2 separate regions of the Homo sapiens genome follow, and region 1 is linked to region 2. Evidence: fine-mapped expression QTL. A gene starts in region 2. The other region holds a variant in brackets. All regions are shown on one strand. Distances are between the middles of the regions. Region 1 holds the start of MTFR1L (mitochondrial fission regulator 1 like). Region 2 holds the start of STMN1 (stathmin 1).

What was found.
Region 1: its variant is fine-mapped to the expression of STMN1 in whole blood (TOPMed, PIP above 0.99).

The regions. Positions count from the first base shown.
Region 1 is chr1:25,817,633-25,826,215 of GRCh38, reverse strand. It overlaps SELENON (selenoprotein N), which reads right to left. Exons shown (of 12, transcript NM_206926.2): 12 at 7,995-8,583. It overlaps MTFR1L (mitochondrial fission regulator 1 like), which reads right to left and starts at 6,262. Exons shown (of 7, transcript NM_001099625.2): 1 at 6,187-6,262; 2 at 3,088-3,197; 3 at 2,468-2,572. The coding sequence starts at 3,111. LOC646471 (a long non-coding RNA gene) reads left to right here and starts at 2,610. Exons shown (of 1, transcript NR_024498.1): 1 at 2,610-6,262. RefSeq lists enhancers at 5,467-5,556, 5,937-6,076, 7,719-8,219 and silencers at 5,667-5,836, 6,287-6,476. The variant T/C (reference allele first, on the strand shown) is at 5,173.
Region 2 is chr1:25,901,565-25,912,712 of GRCh38, reverse strand. STMN1 (stathmin 1) reads left to right here and starts at 6,294. Exons shown (of 5, transcript NM_005563.4): 1 at 6,294-6,324; 2 at 7,975-8,049; 3 at 8,900-9,072; 4 at 11,031-11,148. The coding sequence starts at 8,037. MIR3917 (microRNA 3917) reads left to right here and starts at 6,259; the gene lies at 6,259-6,351. LOC105376885 (a long non-coding RNA gene) reads right to left here and starts at 6,163. Exons shown (of 2, transcript XR_947102.1): 1 at 6,067-6,163; 2 at 4,470-5,677. RefSeq lists silencers at 6,052-6,361, 6,382-6,471, 6,862-7,281, 7,061-7,355.

The DNA.
Region 1 (8,583 bases), 85 kb after region 2:
CCGGCACTGGGTGTCAGGAAGGCTTCCTAGAGGGGGCAGAAGAAGGTTCCTGGTCGAAAACATTGAACAGAGGCCAGATGACAGTCAGGCATGGTGGCTCACACCTGTAATCCCAGCATTTGGGAGGCCGAGGCAGGCAGAATGCTTGAGACCAAGAGTTTGAGATCAGCCTGGGCAACATGGCAAAACCCTGCCTCTACCAAAAAATACAAAAATTATCTGGGTATGGTGGTATACGCCTGTAGTCCCAGCTATTCAGGAGACTGAGGTGGGAAGATGGCTTGAACCTGGGAGGCAGAGGTTGCAGTGAGCTGAGATTGCACCACTGTACTCTAGCGTGGACAACAGAGCCACATTCAAAAACAAAAACAGGCAAGACACATGAGAGTCTATGGGATTACAAACAGTTCTGTGTCTTCAGTGGAAAAGGCCTGAGTCACCTTTTAGTAGAGATGGCAACTGTCTAAAACCACTGTGCCCTCTGGTGAAAATACAAGTACAAGGTCATCCACAACCTGTTACAGCAATAGGAAATTTTTCCTGACTAGCTTTTTATAATCCTGTATAGCTAATTGAGATCTACATTGTTACAGCAATGCTGTTTTAAACAAACCTGAAAATTTGAATATATTTAGATTTAAATAAAAATAAATGATTATACAAAAGGAACCATAATAGGATTTCTTAAAATAGCTCCTCAACCTAGAGATGTTGAGTAAAGTGAAAAATTAGGATTCAGTCATGTTGACTGTGATTACAACAAAGTAAAAAACATCCATCTAGAAAAAGAGGACTACACTAAGACATTAATAGTTATTGTATTATTACTATGTAATTATAGGTAATTTATTTTCCTTTTACTTTTCATAATTTTAATATTTTCATATGCTTAAATTTTCAAAATAAATTGGTAAGAGTCCCTTAAATAATATTTAAGGTAATTTAATAATAATAATAAATGCATATTTACACACAAGTAAGATTCAACTGTTTCTGCTACAAATTATTTGGTATGGTAGATGGATCCAGGATTGATCGCTCCTGCATTTAGATAGGAAACCTGGGACTCACAGGAGTTAAGTGATACTCCAAGGTCACACAGAGAAGAACTTCCAGTGACCCAGGAACTAGTGCTAAAATAGGGCATTTGGGGGAAGCCTCCATTTGTTTTCCTGATTAGCCCTGAATGCTCCTTTGCTCTTGGCAATTAAATGAGTAAACAAATATAAAGTACAGCACAGTGCCTGACACATAGTATGTGCTCAGTAAATGTTATCTAGTATTACCAATACTGCTCACATACATTCCTGCTCTGTGAGAGCCTGTGCCCTTGATTGTCTCTGCCCAGCATCTGGCCAAAGAACTGAAGAGGGTATAGCCAAGTGTGGGGACGGCCTCTATGCAGTGAGCCACACTCCCTAGCTGTCTCCCTTTTTTTTTTCTGATGCTTCTGAGGCAAGTTAGGACCAGTTCCTGCCCAGGATCTTTAGACAATTCTGGATAGCTGGCAATCTGAATACTGGGACAGCTTTTCCTGCCCCCTACCCCTGCGACACTTCCAACTCCATTCCTGACCCTAATACCAACCCTGACACCTCTTCTAATTCCAGATCCAGTTCCTACAGACTCTGCTTCTTAGCATCTTTTATACAGATTTGGCTCCTTCATTTCTGTTTCTACCTGGGCCCACATCCTTTCATGCACATATTTCTATCTCCTCTGTGTGGGTAGAAAGCACAAGTATTTCTTTTGTATCCCAGCTCTCCAAATGCACACATCTGAACCATATAGTTTGGGGCTGGTGCTTAACCATTTAGTTCCTAGAGGGAGGCAGCTGGGACTAATAAATGCTACTTAGCTTTCTACCACAGAAGGGGTCTCAAGAGACCTGGGCCAGGTAGGAATCTCTGCTGCTGAGTGGGTGCTAAAGGATCCCTAGACACAGAGGTAAGACCAAAGCACCCCAGTAAAGGATGCCCAGATTGGCCAAAAAGAGAAGGCTGAGGAATTATGGCCTCAGAGAAACACTAAAAATAGTGGAGCTGGGCATGGTGGCTTGTGCCTGTAATCCCAGCTACATAGGAGGCTGAGGCAGGAGGACTGCTTGAGCCCAGGAGTTTAAGACCTAGCCTGGGCAACATAGGGAGACCTCATCTCAAAAAATAATAAAATAAAAATACTGGCTACATGGTCAATTCTTAGGGCTGGTGAAGAAAAGCAGAGTTCAACTCAAAAATCACAATAGTCAGTGTCCCATGTGGGGGACCTGTCAGGTTCCTTGTGGTCACAGGTTTGTATGCACTCAGGAGGACACAGTGACCAGGATATCTTATAAGCATTTAACAAATATTTCATAACAGAATGAAAAGTGACCAGGAAACAACCTACTTGGGCAGTACCAAGGGGTTTGGGGCACAGAAGCAGCACTGTCTGAGCCTCTACTCTCCTGCCCTTCCAACATACTCACCTCAAAGGACGCCCGGGCACACGGCTTCAAGGGTAGGTTGGTCCCAATTCTTCTTACTACACTTCGAGCAGCCCCATGTGGCTTGTTTTGCCAGATTGGGATGGTCTGGAGCAAAGAGACGGAGACAGCTACAACCCCAGAGAATGAATCCAACTACTGTCCTTGTCCTCTCCTCTCTAGGTTTGTGGAGACTGAATTCCACAAACCTAGGGACAGGGCACTCTCTAGGGGCAAGTCAACTCTCAATTATAGTGAGGGCAGGTTCCCCAGTTGCCAGCCTACACCCTGGCCAGCCACCCAAGGGAATACCTGCTGCTGCTAAGGCAGTCAATGTTGGGAGGGTCAGGGAAGGGGAGAGGAAGTAGCTGAGTGTAGAGATTATCCAGGCTTTCCTTCCCGTCCTCTGTACAGAAAGGCAGACATACACTGACTCCTGAAGTGCCCCAGGATCATAGTTGGTTCTTCTTAGGGGGAGGGAGTGAAACGGTGGCCTTGCTCCAATTCCAGGCCTCTGGAGAAAGGAGTGCTCAACTGGAGAGTCTCAGAACCTTTTACAGTACTTCAGCAGGCCCAGCACCCAACCTTCCCCACCATACCCCTGCCCTGGGAATGCCCCTTACCACAGTGGCTTCCATTCCTGACATTTGAACCAGCTCCTGCACTTGAAGGACAAGGCAGCCACTGGGCAGCTCCGGGAGGCGGGAGGCGTGACTCCTTCATATCAGGCCATCTGGAGGAGCACCAGATTTCCCTCTTGTGAAACAACCCCCCACAGTGGGGATTTAATGGTCACCACACAAGCCCCAAAAAACCAGGCCCTGCAGAGCCATGACTTCACAGGGGAGAAAACCAGCCCAAGAGGCTGCCCTCACCCAACACTTAGCTCTAAGTCCAGACTCTTAAAGGTTCTGTTAAAGATCTGCGGCCAGGCGCAGTGGCTCACATCTGTAATCCCAGCACTTTGGGAGGCCGAGGTGGGCGGATCACGAGGTCAGGAGAGCGAGACCATCCTGGCTAACACAGTGAAGCCCTGTCTCTACTAAAAATACAAAAAATTAGCCAGGTGTGGTGGCGGGCACCTGTAGTACCAGCTACTTGGGAGGCTGAGGCAGGAGAATGGCGTGAACCCAGGAGGCAGAGCTTGCAGTGAGCCGAGATCACGCCACTGCACTCCAACCTGGGTGACAGAGCGAGACTCCGTCTCAAAAAAAAAAAAAAAAAAAAAAGATTTGCCTAGTGAGCTTGGCCAACCCAAGAGCCTTCCTGGGCTCTCAGGTTTCTTGAGGCAAAACTTCTAAAGATGCAAATAGAATCCTTGGTAGCTACAAAGCTCATCTAGCCAAATTATAAGTACTATCCAAGCCCAGGATTCATTCTTGAAGATGAGATGTAAAAGCACTGCTGGGCCCTTGCAAAGGGAGAGATCAGAGAAAATAGGAGAACGAACACCAGCTCATGCCAATCTCAGTCTCATGAGCTACAGAGAAAAAGAGCCAAAAAAGTTTATCCTGGCTCAGCCACCTTCTGGCTTTGTAGCTACAGGCAAGTTATTTAACTTTTCTGAATGTTGGTTTTTCCATCTGGAAAAAGGAGACAGGAAAAGCTGCCACTGGAGGCTACCTTAAGGGTCAATGAGTGAAATGGGGTTGAGTGCTTAATGAACTGTTAAAACATGACACAGATGGGTGAGGTGACATCTGACTGCTCTTCACAGCAGTCCTTGCATGGTGAGCAGATGCAATCAGTGTGCTCGTTCATTCACTTGTTCATCAAACACCAACAGTACCCACTTGTGCCAGGCCTTGTGCTGGGCACCGTAGGGGCTATGGAAGGAGTAAGACACAGTCATGCTCTCAAGGAACTCGCTGTCCAGCAGAGTGATAGGACATGAATACATACTTCTAGCAAAGGCTGAGTAGCATTAGGCAGGTGGCCAGATGAGGTCAGAGCTCTGGCCCTAGTGCCCTGTAGTAAGTTGCGAGGGAGTAGGAAATGAAGACAAAACAGCAAGAGCACAGGTCCAGCACAAGAAGGTGAAGGACATGGAAAGAGGAGCAGAGCATGATAAAGCTACAAAAGTAGGGGGCAAGTCATGAGGTCCGGGTCACTGGGGAGCCCTGGACAGGCTCTGAATGGGAGATAGACTAGACTGACAAAGCAGCTCTTTCTGGAGACCTCCTGTGGAGGGTCCCCTCTTCTACCCTTGGGAGACGAGGTGTCATTCACTTCACGATACACATGGGGAAAGGAAGTTGGACAGGGGAAGGCACTTGTCTAAGGTCACTCAGTGGTCATGCCAGTGCAAAGCACCCAAAGCCTGGTCCAGGTCCTGCCACCTCCTGCGTGGGCTCCATCTTCTCGGCTCAGTTCAAGCCTTTATTATCAGAGTCCCTCTGTGTGCCAGGCTCTGTGCTGAATGTCCGTGTCGGCCACAAATTGCACTAACGGTGCTTACTGCCACTTCCTCTCCGACCTTACCTCCAAAGACCCAGCCGGGCCTAACCCTCACACACAGCCAGAGGAATCCTTCCCAAACACAGTTAATCACATCGCTCATCCGTTTAAAACTGGCTTACTAGAGCCAACACAGGATAAAATCCACAATCAGTCCCAAACCCATCTTTCTCTGCCGTCTCTAGACCACATTCACTGAGCACCAAGGCCTGCACGCTTCGCAGCCAGCCCTCCTGCTCTCCCCCTTGCCC[T/C]CCAGCCACACTGGCCCTCAACCCCCAACACTGGGCCCACCTCTGAGCCCTGCATCAAACACCAGCACCCCCTTCGCCGAGCTCATTCTTCATCATTCCTCAGAGCTCAGCTTAAGCATCACCTTCCTTCCCTGCGACAGGGTCAGGTCCTTTCCTGTGCGCTCCGCAGCACCCTGCCTGTCCCTCGGAGTCCTCGCGAGAGGAACTAGATAACTGTGATCCCCGCGCACAGCACGGTGTCTGCCTAGGACACAGTGAGCGCTTCAACGCGCTGAACTAAACGAATGAAGGGGAACACCAACTCAGCTGTCACCCCCGCCCCCAAGTGTCACTGGCTAGAAGATCTTCCCCCGGTTCGCCGGCAGCACCGGTGGGTCTTGTCACCTCTGCGCCCCGCAGCCCTCCGGAGGCTGCAGTTGCTGTCTGCTGACAGGCGTCCCCTCAGGAGAACGGGAGCTCCTCCAGCGCAGGGCCCTGCTCAGCACCCCTGGTCCCGGGGGCCCCCACGGAGGCCGCCGCGCTCAGTGAAACTTTGCCGCGCGCAGCAGTGGCCGGAGACCCGCGCGGACCCTCTCCCCGCGGGGACCCGCCAGGGCGAGTCGCCCCTCCCCCGCGGCAGACGACCCGACCTGGGCCAAGGTCGGCCAAGTGCTCGCCGCCTGCCCAGCGGCCCTTGGACCCACAGGACCCGGACCCGAGTGCGCGGAAGCCTCCGAGCCGCGGCCAGGTCTCAGAATGCGCGGCGGGGCAGCCCGGCCCGTCAAGCAGCGAAGCCGAAACTAGAAGCCTGAGGTCTGGCTTGGTCACTGTTTGCTGGGGAACTCCGACGAGCAACTACCCTTCGGGGACTCAGTTTCCCCCGGGCCAAGTGAGACGGACAGCTGCGGCTCCCGCGAGAACTCGCGCGGGAACAGGAGCTGCGGGCTCCGCACAGCGCCCGGCACGTAGACCCAGTCTACTAACGGGCTGGAAGGTCGCGCTCCCGCCTCCGCGCCTCCCTAGAACCTTTCTCACCTCAAGCTCGGGCTCCCGGACTCTCTCACCTCACGGCCCCTCCTTCCACCTTGGGCCGCCCAGCCTCAACCGCCCTCACTTCCGCTGACCCGCCCCCCGGAAGCGATCCTCCGCAGCTGCGCACCGAGGCGCACCTCCGCGCACCCTCAGGAGGCGGGTCCAGCTCGGTGGCGAGGGGAGCGCGGCCCCCGAGTGGGCGAGGCGCTGGCGGCTGTAGGCTCCGATACCGCGGAGCACACTCCCCTCCATCGAGACCGTGCCCCCGCGGGGTCTGTGTCCCCGGGAGGAGTTGGCTGCGTTTGGAGATCCCTCGGCCTGGTATTCGTCGCGTCTCCCTGCTTGTTGCTCTCCACGTTTAGCCCCATCCGACTTCTGGAAGCCCAGGGGTGTGTCGCTCGACCCCTAAAATATGCTCCTACCCCTAGGGCAAACTTCAGAATCCTCACCCTGGCCCCCTTCCCAGTTCTTGGTTCCCAGGCAGGTCCCTTTGCAAAGCCTCTCTCCAGCAAGAATGCGCAGAATGGGCCTCTTTCTCCTCTTGACTCCTGCCCTCCAGCACTTTGCAGCTTTCTTCTATTTTAGCCTCTCTCTCTCTCTCTCACACACACACACACACACACACACACACACACACACACACACGGTATATTCAATGAGTTTGCTTATTAGATGGGTACTTGATGTACAAGACTCCAGAGGCTCTGTGGGAAGAGCCACATTCCTTCCAGGCTCACTAACCCACTCCCTCTTTGTGCTCCAGCCCTCACTGTCTTGGTCTGTGGCATGCAGTTCCTGGGTCACATTTCCTTCTCTGCCTTCAGCACAGCCTCGGGCTGTGCCTGGCTCCCAGGCTGGAGTTCCTTGGTTCCAAAGCCTGCAGTCCCCTCTGCCAGAGACAGAGCTGGTTTCATGGGTGAACAGCCCATGCAGTCACAACGGGCCGCATGCTCAGAATCCTGTACTTGGTTTAGTACTTTGCTGTTGCCGTCTTGAAATGATTTTCTAATAGGGGTTCTTGTGTTTTCATTTTGCACGGGGCTGTGCAAATTATGTGACTGGTCCTGGCTAGAGACCTCAGAGGTCGTCCACCCTGATCTCCACCATATCTCAAACGCTGAAGATTGACTTCCAGGTCTGGCCCTCTTCCCAGGATGGCACATTGTGTTTTAATCATTACCTTTCCCTCCTGTGCGATGGCGGATCATGCAAGTCCACGCTGGCTGTCTGTCCTGGGTGTAGATGCTGATTTGGTGTCCCACTCAGATCCCCTTGCAGGAAGAACGGAGCTCCCTACCTGGGAATTTCCTTCACCTCCCAAGCCAATGACTGATAAAAGGTCCAAAAGGCCAGTTCAGCTCTGCAGTGTGGTTTATGCCCCACAGCTCTTCCACTGTGGGTCAGGCCAAGGCTGGGCTGAGACTGTTCCTGCTCAGCATTTTTCCTTTCCCTCTTCTGCTTCCTTCCTTCTTTTACTGGTTTTTCTGGAAGTACACTCCCCCCCAGCCCCACCAAACAAACAAAACAAACAAACAAAAAAACACTTCATGCCTGTCTCAGGCTCTGCTTTTAAGACAATGATTTTAACTCCCAGATCTCTCTCAACAGAGAGCACCAGATTCTCAAAACAGTAAGTCCTACCACTTGTTCTATCGTAAAACTTATTTTGGGCAAGTCACTCAAGCCTTCGATAGGTAAGATAGTACCTGAAAGCATTCCAGCTCAACTCTGCCCCAAGAGGGAGCCACCCCATGGAAGGACGGAGCTGAGCAACATGCCACTCAAAGGAAAAGCACTTAGAACCACTCTAGTTAGTCTTCTCTAATTTTATTACAGGGCATGTTGGGGACAGGGGAGGGAAGTGTTAGAGGAGTGACAGGGCAGCCCGGGGCCCTCTCCCACCCTGAGCCTCGAGGCCTGGTGGGGGACATGAACTGCAGAGGCATCAGATAAGGCCTCAGAAAGCCCAGGCCATCATTTTCCATGGGACCAGGCTGGCTCAATGTGGAACTGGCCCTCCCAGAGCAGCAGGAGAAGGGCTCGCATGGGCTGCCCCCGTCACCTGTGCCTGACAGGATGGGGGGGGAGGCAGAGAGAGAGCATCAGACGCCCTCCCTCCCCATAAGGGGCATGGGGGATGGGGACACTTCCTCCCAGGACACAGGGAGCCTGGCTGAGCTGGCTGGCTCATGCCCCATCTGGTCTGGAGGTCAGAGGGGAGTGAGACACTCTGGTTTGAAAGGCCTTCCTTTCCACTTTGGGGAAAACAGGCAGGGAGAGAGGTGAGGGTGCCATGCCAAAAAACACCCCCAAATCCAGATGCAGACTTTGGAGCCACATGTGGGTTTGAATCTCAACTCTACCTGAGTGACCCTGGGCAAGTCACTTCACTTCCCTGAG
Region 2 (11,148 bases):
CAATGGAAGTGCACTTCCAATCTCATTGCAGCCATGTGAGTCACAGGACTGAGACGGGTGCCACAGTGCAGGCACTAGAGCTGTTCTGAGATCAGCCTGTTGCTAGTCAAATATTTATAGGAGTTATTAATATAGACAGAATTGACAGCCATGTCTTTCTTGGGATTTTGGCTCCTCCCCCTCCTTTTCTCTAATGCCTGAAATTTCTAGGGACAAAGCCTTGCAAATCATTTTTGAATGAGTTGAGATAATGAATTAAAGTGCCACATGGTGAGTGTTGAATTGGTACAACGTGGAAGGCAATTTGGCACCATCCAAATTACAAATGTGCTTGCCTTTTAGCCCTGAAATACCATTTCTAGGAATATGTCTTGCAGATATACTCACACCCATAGGAAATGCCATATGAACTAGGTCATTCATTACAGCATGGTGAGCTATTCTGAATAACTGGGAATAACCTAAAGAGCCACAGATATCCCACTGGTTAACTGCATCTTGGAATATTCATACCATGGACACCAGATCAAAGAAATCCTTGATGTATGAACAGGGAAAAGACCCCTGACGTGGTTTTTGTTTGTTTGTTTAAGAGACAGCGTCTCTGGCCAGGTGTGGTGGCTCACATCTGTAATCCCAGCACTTTGGGAAGTCAAGGCGGGTGGATCACTTGAGGTCAGTAGTTCAAAGCCAGCCTGGCCAACATGGTGAAAACCCATCTCTACTAAAAATACAAAAAATTAGCCAGGCGTGGTGACATGTGCCTGTAATCCCAGTTACTCAGGAGGCTAAGGCAGGAGAATCCCTTGAACCCAGGAGGCGGAGGTTGTAATGAGTTGAGATTGTGCCGCTGCACTCCAGCCTGGGTGACAGAGCGAGATCCTGTCTCCTTCAGCTTGGGTTACAGAGTAAGATTCTGACTCAAAAAACAAAGAGACAGGGTCTCGTTCTGTCACCCAGGCTGGGGAACAGCGGCGTGATCATGGCTCACTGCAGGTGGTCCTCCCACCTTAGCTAGGACTACAGGCCCGTGCCACCATGCCCAGCTAATTTTATTTATTTATTTGTATTTTTTCATTTATTTGTAGAGACAGGTTCTTGCTATGTAGCCCAGGGTGGTCTCAAACTCTAAGCCTCAGGTGATTATTCTGCCCTGGCTTCCCAAAGTGCTGGGATTACAGGTGTGAGCTACCACACCCAGACCCTGACATGTATTGTTAAGTGAAAACTGCTAAGCAAAGAACAGTTACAGGAGGCTATCATGTGTGTAAAAAGAGAGGGGATATGAATGCATACCTACAAGTTTGCTTGTGTACACATGAAGAAACTCCTGGATACACAGGAAACTGATTAACAGAGATTATGGTGGGGGAGTGGTTGGTAGAGAACTTGGAAGATAAGGAGGGCTTCTTATACTTTATTTTTAAACCATGTGAATGTGTTACCTATTTAAAGTGTTACATGAGAGCTTCTGACCAGAGGCTACATTTCCCAGCCTGTAAGAATGGCCACCCTATAGGCTGCAAATCTTTATGAGAAATAAAGCTCTCCTTTCCAAATTTATGAACAGACCAACCAGCCCAAGGAACATCTCACTGATTTTAAATTGGATCTTCTCGGCTTAGCGACTGAAGACTGACACAGCCCGATCGCCTCGGAAGCCCCCTGGGCCATCATGGACGCCGAGCTTCGGGTAACTCTTACAGTGGAGGACAGGAATGTCAGGCCTCTGAGCCCAAGCTAAGCCATCATATCCCCAGTGACCTGCACGTATATATCAAGATGGCCTGAAGCAACTGAAGATCCACAGAAGTGAAAATAGCCTTAACTGATGACATTCCACCATTGTGATTTGTTTCTGCCCCACCTTAACTGATCAATGTACTTTGTAATCTCCCCCACCCTTAAGAAGGTTCTTTATAATGTCACCCACCCTTAAGAAGTTTCTTTGTAATTCTCCCCACCCTTGAGAATGTACTTTGTGAGATCCATCCCCTGCCCCCAAAACATTGCTCTTAACTCTACTGCCTATCCCAAAACCTATAAGAACCAATGATAATCCCACCACCCTTTGCTGACTCTCTTTTCGGACTCAGCCCGCCTGCATCCAGGTGAAATAAACAGCCTTGTTGCTCAAAAAAATAAAAATAAAAATAAAAATAAAAAATAAAGTGTTAAATGAATTGAATTTAACCCCATGGGAAGAGTTAACCCAGTAACTACAATTTCCATCAAAGGGTGAAAGTCTAATAGTCATTCACTCATTCAATAACCTATAGCAGGCCAGGCACCGCGGCTCACGCCTGTAATCCCTGCACTTTGGGAGGCCGAGGCAGGTGGATCACCTGAGGTCAGGAGTTTGAGACCAGCCTGATCAACGTGATGAAACCCCATCTCTACTAAAAATACAAAAAATTAGCTGGGCATGGTGGCGCACACCTGTAATCCCAGCTACTCAGGAGGCTGAGGCGGGAGAATCGCTTGAACCTGGGAGGCGGAGGTTGCAGTGAGCTGAGATTGCACCACTGCACTGCAGCCTGGGCAACAAAAGCAAAACTCCGTCTCAAAAAATAAAAATAAAATAATCTATAGCAATCAGGAAACATCTCTAGCAATGATACCTAACAAGTGCACAGCACTTTAAATGTGCCAGGCATTGTGCTGTTTTCATTTACATTATTTCATTTAATCCTCACCACTCCCAGAGTGCAAGTGTCTAATATCACAGAAGAGACAGAAGATCACAGAAGGATGAGAGAGGTTGTTCTTTTTTTTTTTTTTTGTGAGACGGAGTCTTGCTGTGTCGCCCAGGCTGGAAGGCAGTGGCGTGAACTCGGCTCACTGCAACCTCCACCTCCCAGGTTCATGCCATTCTCCTGCCTCAGCCTCGTGCGTAGCTGGGACTACAGGCGCCCGCCACCATGCCTGGCTAATTTTTTGTATTTTTAGTAGAGACGGGGTTTCATCGTGTTAGCCAGGATGGTCTCGATCTCCTGACCTTGTGATCCGCCTGCCTCAGCCTCCCAAAGTGCTGGGATTAGAGGTGTGAGCCAGCGTGCCCGGCCAAGAGGTTGTTCTTTCCCAAAGTTCTCTGCAAACATTCAGGCGCCATCATCCTGGGCCAGGCCTGAGGATGGGCACTGCACTAGGGATACCAAGACAAAGACAGCACCCTGCCCTCTAGGACCTAATGGTCTAGTGAGGGAGATCGATGTGTAAAACAGCAGACTCATAGACAGGTTTTGAATAGAGAAGGGAGTGTTAGAGCATAGTGCTTGAGGATTAGGAGACAAAGGGAACAGAGAGACCGGGGACAACAAGCAAACCTCTCCCACGACACCCTTTGGCCGAGGACAGGCCTCGAAAGCAGCTGTGGAACTTGGAGGCGCCATGTGGGAGACAAACCCTGCAGCCTCAAGCCCAACAATGAACAAAGGCTGCCGGGCTCTCTGGCAGGAGAGGAGATCTGACAACGGCCTGGCCCGCCGTTTGATCAGTGTAGACATTCCTTCTAGACTTTGAAGCCTGAAGTGCTCTCCTTTAGCTGTCTACACAGATCAAATAAGCTGGATGACTGCCCTATCTCCACTTCGTTGTGTGGCTCCATAGTCACAGCCAGCTCCATAACAATCCAACCAAACCATCTGAGCAGAAGCAAAAATAATTCTTATGGGCAAAGATAGACAGTTCCAAGATGTGAACATTAACTCCTTGCTGCCACTTCAGAAGAGAGTGGATCTTGAAGTTCGTTTTAGGAAGCTTTCGAGAAGGGCGATTCTGCCCCTCTCCAAGGTGAAGTGGCAAAACTGTTGTCTCTCCTTACAGTTGAAAGCCCTTCCTATTCCAAGGCTTATATAGGACACCCACAAAAGCTGACAATAATGAGCTGTGATCTGGCTCTTGGGAAGGCAGCCCCACCCTAAAGAACAAGGATCAGACTGGGTGTGGTGGCTCATGCCTGTAATCCCAGCACTTTGGGAGGCTGAGACAAGAGGATTGCTTGAACCCAGGAGTTCGAGGCCAACCTGGGCAACATAGTGAGACCCTGTCTCAATTTTTTTTAAGTCAAATAATAATAATAATAATAATAATAATAATAATAATAATAATAATAATAAAAGGACAGGAATCCCACCTCAAAAGCACCTTTTTATTCAAAGGCTCATTCTAGGGGAAACTTTAACCCAGCCCTCTCAGTCCTCAAGCAGCTGTGAGGAGCTTGGAACATTGTCACAGACTGGCAGAACCAGGCATCTCCCAACAAACCCAGAAGCCAAGTGGCATTGCTAAAAAAGATTAAAAATGAACATGAGTTCTAACATCTACGTTCCTTGCTATGGTTTCCATGGAAATAGACATCTGCTCTAGGGAGAAAGAAAATGTGGGGGGAAGCAGTGTAAGTGCTTTCAAATTATCAGTGTTTTGAAAGATTTATTTCTTTTTTCTGTCACAACATTAATAGTCAGGAATGTGAGACTTTTGTGTGGCAATTTATTGTACTTAAAAAAATGCATTAAATGAGTGGGACCTTCCTCTGTGAACCTCCAGATCAAATACAAAGACTTCAAGATAAAAAGCCTGTTCAGTGGGTAAGGACCTCTTGGGCTTGGGTTCCTTGCTCATTTGTGTTGCCTGCCTATCTGTCGCTTTCCTGAGGGGTCTCATGCCCATCCTTCTCCAACTTTTCTAATGATGTCTGAGATTCTGTTCAGAAAAATGACAGACGGAAGCACCTAGCCATTTTGAAGCTAAGTTTGGTCTGAGAAGAAGCCTTTCAAGGCTCAGTATCTGAATTATTCCTGGTCCTGCTCACAGGCTAAGTGAAAACCACTTCGATTGGCTTGGGGGGGAGGCCGACCCCACACAAGGGCGATTGTTGGAAAAAATGCCGCAACAAGCATATTTCAGGCAACAGCGCATTGCTAATTGTTTGCTTTGTGTAGTGTGCTGCTGCTTGTATGATCCAGTTTTTATTGTCTTGGGCACCCCTTAGTTGTATTTTATCTCTGGCACATCCCTGGTGACTAACTAGGCATGAGAGTCTTTCTAAATTAGGACTGTTGTTTCAGGAAGGTTGGTCACATTTGTTTCTTGATTTGGGGAGATGCAGCTCATTAATAAAATAAAGATATCTCTTCTGCTTAGTCAAGATCTCAAAGCAGGTGTCTTGGTGTATTGACCACCAACCGAGGACACGGTCTTGGTCAGAGAATGGGAGGAGGCGGGGACCATGTTCATTTCATTTATTTTTTTCCCCTTTTTGTGAGAGAAAGGGCCAGTTATTCTAAGGCACGGTCAGACCAATTTCCTTTGTGCCTTTGCTGAGGTTCTGAGCTATCCAGGTCAGGGAGAACAGTGACCTTGTGGCTCCTTTTTCGATTTTTAAAAAGAACCCAGTGCTGCTCTGGGGAGCACGTGCTCTGAGAACAAAAGCAACACTTAACTGCAATCTGTGTAGTCTAGAACGGCTATTGCTCTTCCTCCCCTATCATCCGCAGAAGGCTTGGAAGAACAGATGGAGTCTGCATTTAAGCTGAGTGGCTTTGTTAGACCAAAGGCGATCAAATTCCAGAGCCCCACGCTTTCCCGCACAGGTCCCTGGTCACCGGCTCGGGAACCTGAGGATGCTGGCAAGAACGCACACAGTGAGGGAAGGGCCACGCCCGCGACCTGTGGGCTGAGTGGATTAGAAATTACGATGATGTCACAATATGGGTGACACGCCGGTGTCGGTGTAGGGTGCCGGGGGCAGGGGGCCCTGCAGGGGCGTGGAGTGGCATTGTGCTGTCACAGGGGCTCGGGCGTCTTAGGCACCCATGTGGGTGGCGCACTAGAAGGGGCACTGCTCTGTCCGAGTGCTGCCCTTGGGGCGAGGCGGGCATGTGGCTCTACAAGGTGGAGTCCAGGCGGCCAAAGTTTGGAAAGGTAGGGAAGGACCCCCCCGCCCTCCGCCTGCTCCGCCCTGCCCTTGTTCTCGAGAATGGGGAGCTGGTTCGGACCTAGTCCGGGGTCCACTGCCACGCCCTCTTCCACGGCGAGACCACCCCCCTAGTCCCAGGCCCACACCTGGGGATGCTCCCCAGGCGCCCTGCAACCCCCGGCATTGTCCTCCTGCCCTCCGGGACAGGACTACACTTCCCGAGGTGCTTCGGGGTCCCGGGGGGCGGCGCTCCACGCGGGTTGTGGGGGGCGGGGGCGGCACGTGCCGCCGCTCTCGGCCAATGCGGAGCCCCGCGCGGAGGTCACGTGCCTCTGTTTGGCGCTTTTGTGCGCGCCCGGGTCTGTTGGTGCTCAGAGTGTGGTCAGGCGGCTCGGACTGAGCAGGTGGGTGCGGGGCTCGGAGGAGGCGGCGGCTGGCTGAGGCCAGCAAGAGGGACGCGGTCGGCGGGAGGGGCTGGGCCGTGGCAGCGACCCCCTGCTGCAGGGCGGCGGGCGGGGCTGCGGGCCTCGGAGGGGTTGGTGGGCGGGGGTCGCTCCGCTTTGTGTGTGGCTCGGGCGGAGCCTCGCCTTTGTCCCCGCTCTCCGGGGGCGCGGCTGTTCGTGGGCAGGGGGCTGGGCGATCACCGGGCGTCCGCTCCGGGGTGCCGTCGAGGAGACAATAGGGGGCGTGGGCCCTCGTTTACCTCCCTCCCTCCCTCCCTTCCCTGCGGGCCCCGCCGGGTTCCCCATTGTCTGAAGGGACGGGGCGGTGCCCCAGGGACCAGCGGCTTTAGGACCAAACTGCGGGCAGCCAGGGCCGCGACCCTCCCTGCGACCGTCCCCTGGCGACCGCAGCTGGTGATTGAGGGGCGGCGCTCCCGGGCCCCACGAGGGTTCTTCTGTCTTCGCGGCCGGACGCGCGGACAGCGTGGGTGGCGGCAGGTTGGGCATGGGGACGGCGGGAGGCGGTGGCGAGCTCACCGCGGGACCACCCGGGGGCCTGTTCCCGGGGCCTGCCCCACCCGCTGAACTGTGAAGGGGGTGGTGGCGGCGGCCTGGAGGTGTTTTTGGCGGGAGTTGGGGGGGGCGTCCGCGCAGGGGGAGTCAGGCAGGGGCGGAGTTACCCGGATTGGACCGTTAGCCCCGCCCACCCCTCCCCTTCCCACGCGCGCGGGCTCCGGGGTGTTGAGTTCGGGGAGATTCGAAAAGGCGCGGGGAGGAAGGGGGCGGGGCCAGGGGCCGGAGCGCAAGGCGTGCTCTGATTGGCCGGGGGCGACCGGTCCTCTTTTCCTCGCCCGGACCAGGGCCACGCCCATCCTGGGTCCGGTGCTGCGTCTAATTCTCTGCTTTTCTTAAATCTTGTCGCTGCCTCTGATTTTAATTCCTAGCTTTTGGGAACCTGTCATCCTACGTTTTTGGTACTAGCTGGCGTCTACAAAAGTCATAATGTTAAAAAGATCAACAAGAGATACAGCATTTTTCATGACATAACGGCAGCAAATATAAGTCAAAATCTAGAGGTTCATAAACATTTTGCTTGCTGTTGGGCAAGGAAGCTTAAACCTGAGGGACAATAGGAGTTCAACATTATTGGTTACTATTAGCTTGGGCGTTTTCTTATCCACCACGTCAGACACAGACAAAGCAGGGGTGGGTATTTCATTTGCACAATGAGTTGTAGGCAGTATTAAGATGGCTCCGGGGGCACTGTTGAGTTGAATCTGGAATATCTTCTTACAGTTTCGGTGAAATGTTAAAGAGTTTATGGGGGAAAAATTCTTCACCCTTGTGACTTTGTCTGATTTTAAAAATCCAAGAGTTTTATGACCGAGAAAGCTCAGTTAACTTGATTTTCTGGAACCAATATCATATTCAGGTCATATTTCCCAATGTTTATTTAGTAGATTTTGATAATTTTTTTCGTGGTTAATTTAGACGTCTTTATTCCACGTATTTTTCTGACGATGTATGTAGATGTGATGTGAGATTTTTTTGGGTTGATGACATATAGAAAGGCAAAGAAAGTGATTGCATGTTTTTGAAAATCATTTTCAGGACTTTCCTTATCCCAGTTGATTGTGCAGAATACACTGCCTGTCGCTTGTCTTCTATTCACCATGGCTTCTTCTGGTAGGTAATCTATTTGGAAAATCTGAAATTGTAATGGGCTTATGATTTTAGATTGAGATGGCTCAGGTCTTCGCCTTTGATTTGGCACTTATGTTTTGGTCTTACCAAAACCTATTTTATGAATAGGAGAAGAATTTAAAAATGATTATCACTTGAATGTGCCGAGAGCTCGTAATTGTTTATTGGACAGTTTGGCTTAGTCTGAAGCAAAATTGTGGAGTTTGCACAAGTCTTTTGTTTATGAAAGCGATTGTCAGATACTGATGTCTCAAAACAGTATTTATTAATCCAAAAATGTTGAGCTTTGTTTTTCTGGGAGATGGTTTTTATTTTTTTTGAGACAGGGTCTCACCTTGTTGCCCAGGCTGGAGTGCAGTGGCTTAATTATAGCTCATTGCAGCCTTGACTTCTGGAGCTCAAGTGGGCTCAAGCGATTCTCCCACCTCAGCCTCCATAGCATCTGGGACTATCGACATGGGCCACCACACCCACCTAATCAAAAAAAATTTTTTTTGTAGAGATGGGCTTTCCCTTTGTTGCCCAGGCTGGTCTCAAACTTCAGGGCTCAAGGGATCTTCCCATGTTGGCCTCCCACGGTGCTGGGATTATAGGCATGAGCCATGGTACCTGGCCTTGGGAAATGGTATTTAGATAATAATATCTTGCCTGCAAATACATCTTCCCCTAGTGTCAGTAGACTGATAGGAATAAAAAGGGGAAAAAAAACACAACTTTCCTCATCAGCCCTAGTTTAATACATTAAATTGATTTGGGTTTTAGAAAATTATAGTACAGTTTATTAGAACAGGAGAATCCTGGTTTTCTGAATTATAAATATAATCAATTCTAGATATCCAGGTGAAAGAACTGGAGAAGCGTGCCTCAGGCCAGGCTTTTGAGCTGATTCTCAGCCCTCGGTCAAAAGAATCTGTTCCAGAATTCCCCCTTTCCCCTCCAAAGAAGAAGGATCTTTCCCTGGAGGAAATTCAGAAGAAATTAGAAGCTGCAGAAGAAAGACGCAAGGTAAACGAAGCAATTCACAGAAAGCAGGATATTAATTTATGTAATGGGCAGATCAATTTTATTTCTATAACAGGAAGAAAACAGAATTGTAGCTACACTGTGATTATTACATATGCCAGTGACTGGAAGGAAATACCAGTCCTCATTTATTGAACTCCTGTTACATGCCCGCTCCTTTGTTTATATTTTTCTCCTTTAATACATGGTGTTGCCTCAAATAATGGAAATTAGAAACAGTTTCAGGAATGTTAAGTCGTTTTTCTGCAGTCATACAACTAGTAAGTGTTGGGGTCAGAATTCAAGCCCTGGTCTATCTTAAACCAAAGCTCATGCTTCTCTCATGCTTCCTCTTTGAAAAGATTTGTTGCCAGATGATTCTTTGGCACTTTGGTTTTGTTTTTTGAGAGCTGTACAATAACATTTTAAATTGCTAGTGTGATTGTGTTGCTCAGCTGGTATCATGGTAGCTTTTCTCTTATCTAAACAATTCTATTATAAAGTAACTATCTTTAAAAGCTAATCAGAAGAATCAATAAATATTAATATGCTAGTTGTAGAAAATTTGGGAAATACAGAAATTTATAAATGGAAATTAAAAGTATTCATTATCCCGCTTCCGAGAAGCAACCAGTGTTAACATTTTGGTGTGTTTCTTTCCATTCAATGTTACTCATTAACAACTGTACATAACTTTTCATTTAACTCCCTTTCTCAACAACCCTGATAGGATTGATTTTAAAGCTGGGGCAAGTGAGGCACAAAAGGTAAGGTAATAACCTTCCCCAGACCAGCATAGTGATTTGTAGTATACACACACACCCGCCCGAAGAGCCTCAGTGCTTACACTAAGGAGTCGTCTTCTATGCAATAGTGTGAGTTCATGGAGTAGGAGGAAGCAATACAACCAAAGGTTGGACAGTGGAAAGCTTTTTAGACATCAACCCTGGCCCTGTAGTCATTAGCCTGTGCTTTACATAGTAACTGGCTAAATATAATGAAACTCCCATCATGACTAGGATTTGGCAGAAGAGAATCAATAGAACCAGTGTCAGATGCTCTGTGGTTATCCTGCAAGTCAGTGGTTCCAATGTGTTTTGAGAACAAGCTGTTCTGTTGAAGGGGTCATACCAAGGTATGGTCTGGTAATTAATGCAGTTTCCTGAGACAAAAGCTAATAAGCCTTTTCCTTGAAACAAATTTTTCTGTCTTAAATAGTAATCTACAGACTTAGTCTTGAATTTCCTATCATTGTTTTATCAGTTATGGTTAAAATTTTTACAATGAGCTAGTTTTCTTTGGGTAGCTTTTGAAGTTAAATAGTGAAATTCTTTACAATAAAAGTGCCACTCGCAAGTACATATTCCTCAAGTCATCCAGATACCATTAAGCAGTAAATCTTACAAGGATTTCCTTAAGGACTAATTGGGTAAGATTTCTGAACAGATAAGCACTTTTCCAAAGTTAAATACAAATACTAGAAAAAGAATATCATTTTCACAGTATTTTATGATAGGGATAATTCAGGTCCTAATTTTGGTGTTATTTAAAGGGACCTTATTTTCTGCCCCTTTTCAATCCCCTTAGTAAATTATTTTTATTGTAATTTTAACTTATGCTGAATACATTTTATTTTTTGAGGCAGAGTCTCTGTCACCCAGGGTGGAGTGCAGTGGCACGATCTCAGTTCACTGCAACCTCCACCTCCCGGGTTCAAGCAATTCTTCTGCCTCAGCCTCCCAAGTAACTTAGACTACAGGCACCCGCCACCACGCCCGGCTAATTTTTGTATTTTTAGTATAGGTAGGATTTCACCATGTTGGCCAGGCTGGTCTTGAACTCCTGACCTCAAATGATCCACCCACCTTGGCCTCCCAAAGTGCTGGGATTACAGGCGTGAGCCACCACACCCAGCCTGAATACATTTTAGAGTGCCTAGCCTATTAAACTTTTTTTTCCAGTCCCATGAAGCTGAGGTCTTGAAGCAGCTGGCTGAGAAACGAGAGCACGAGAAAGAAGTGCTTCAGAAGGCAATAGAAGAGAACAACAACTTCAGTAAAATGGCAGAAGAGAAACTGA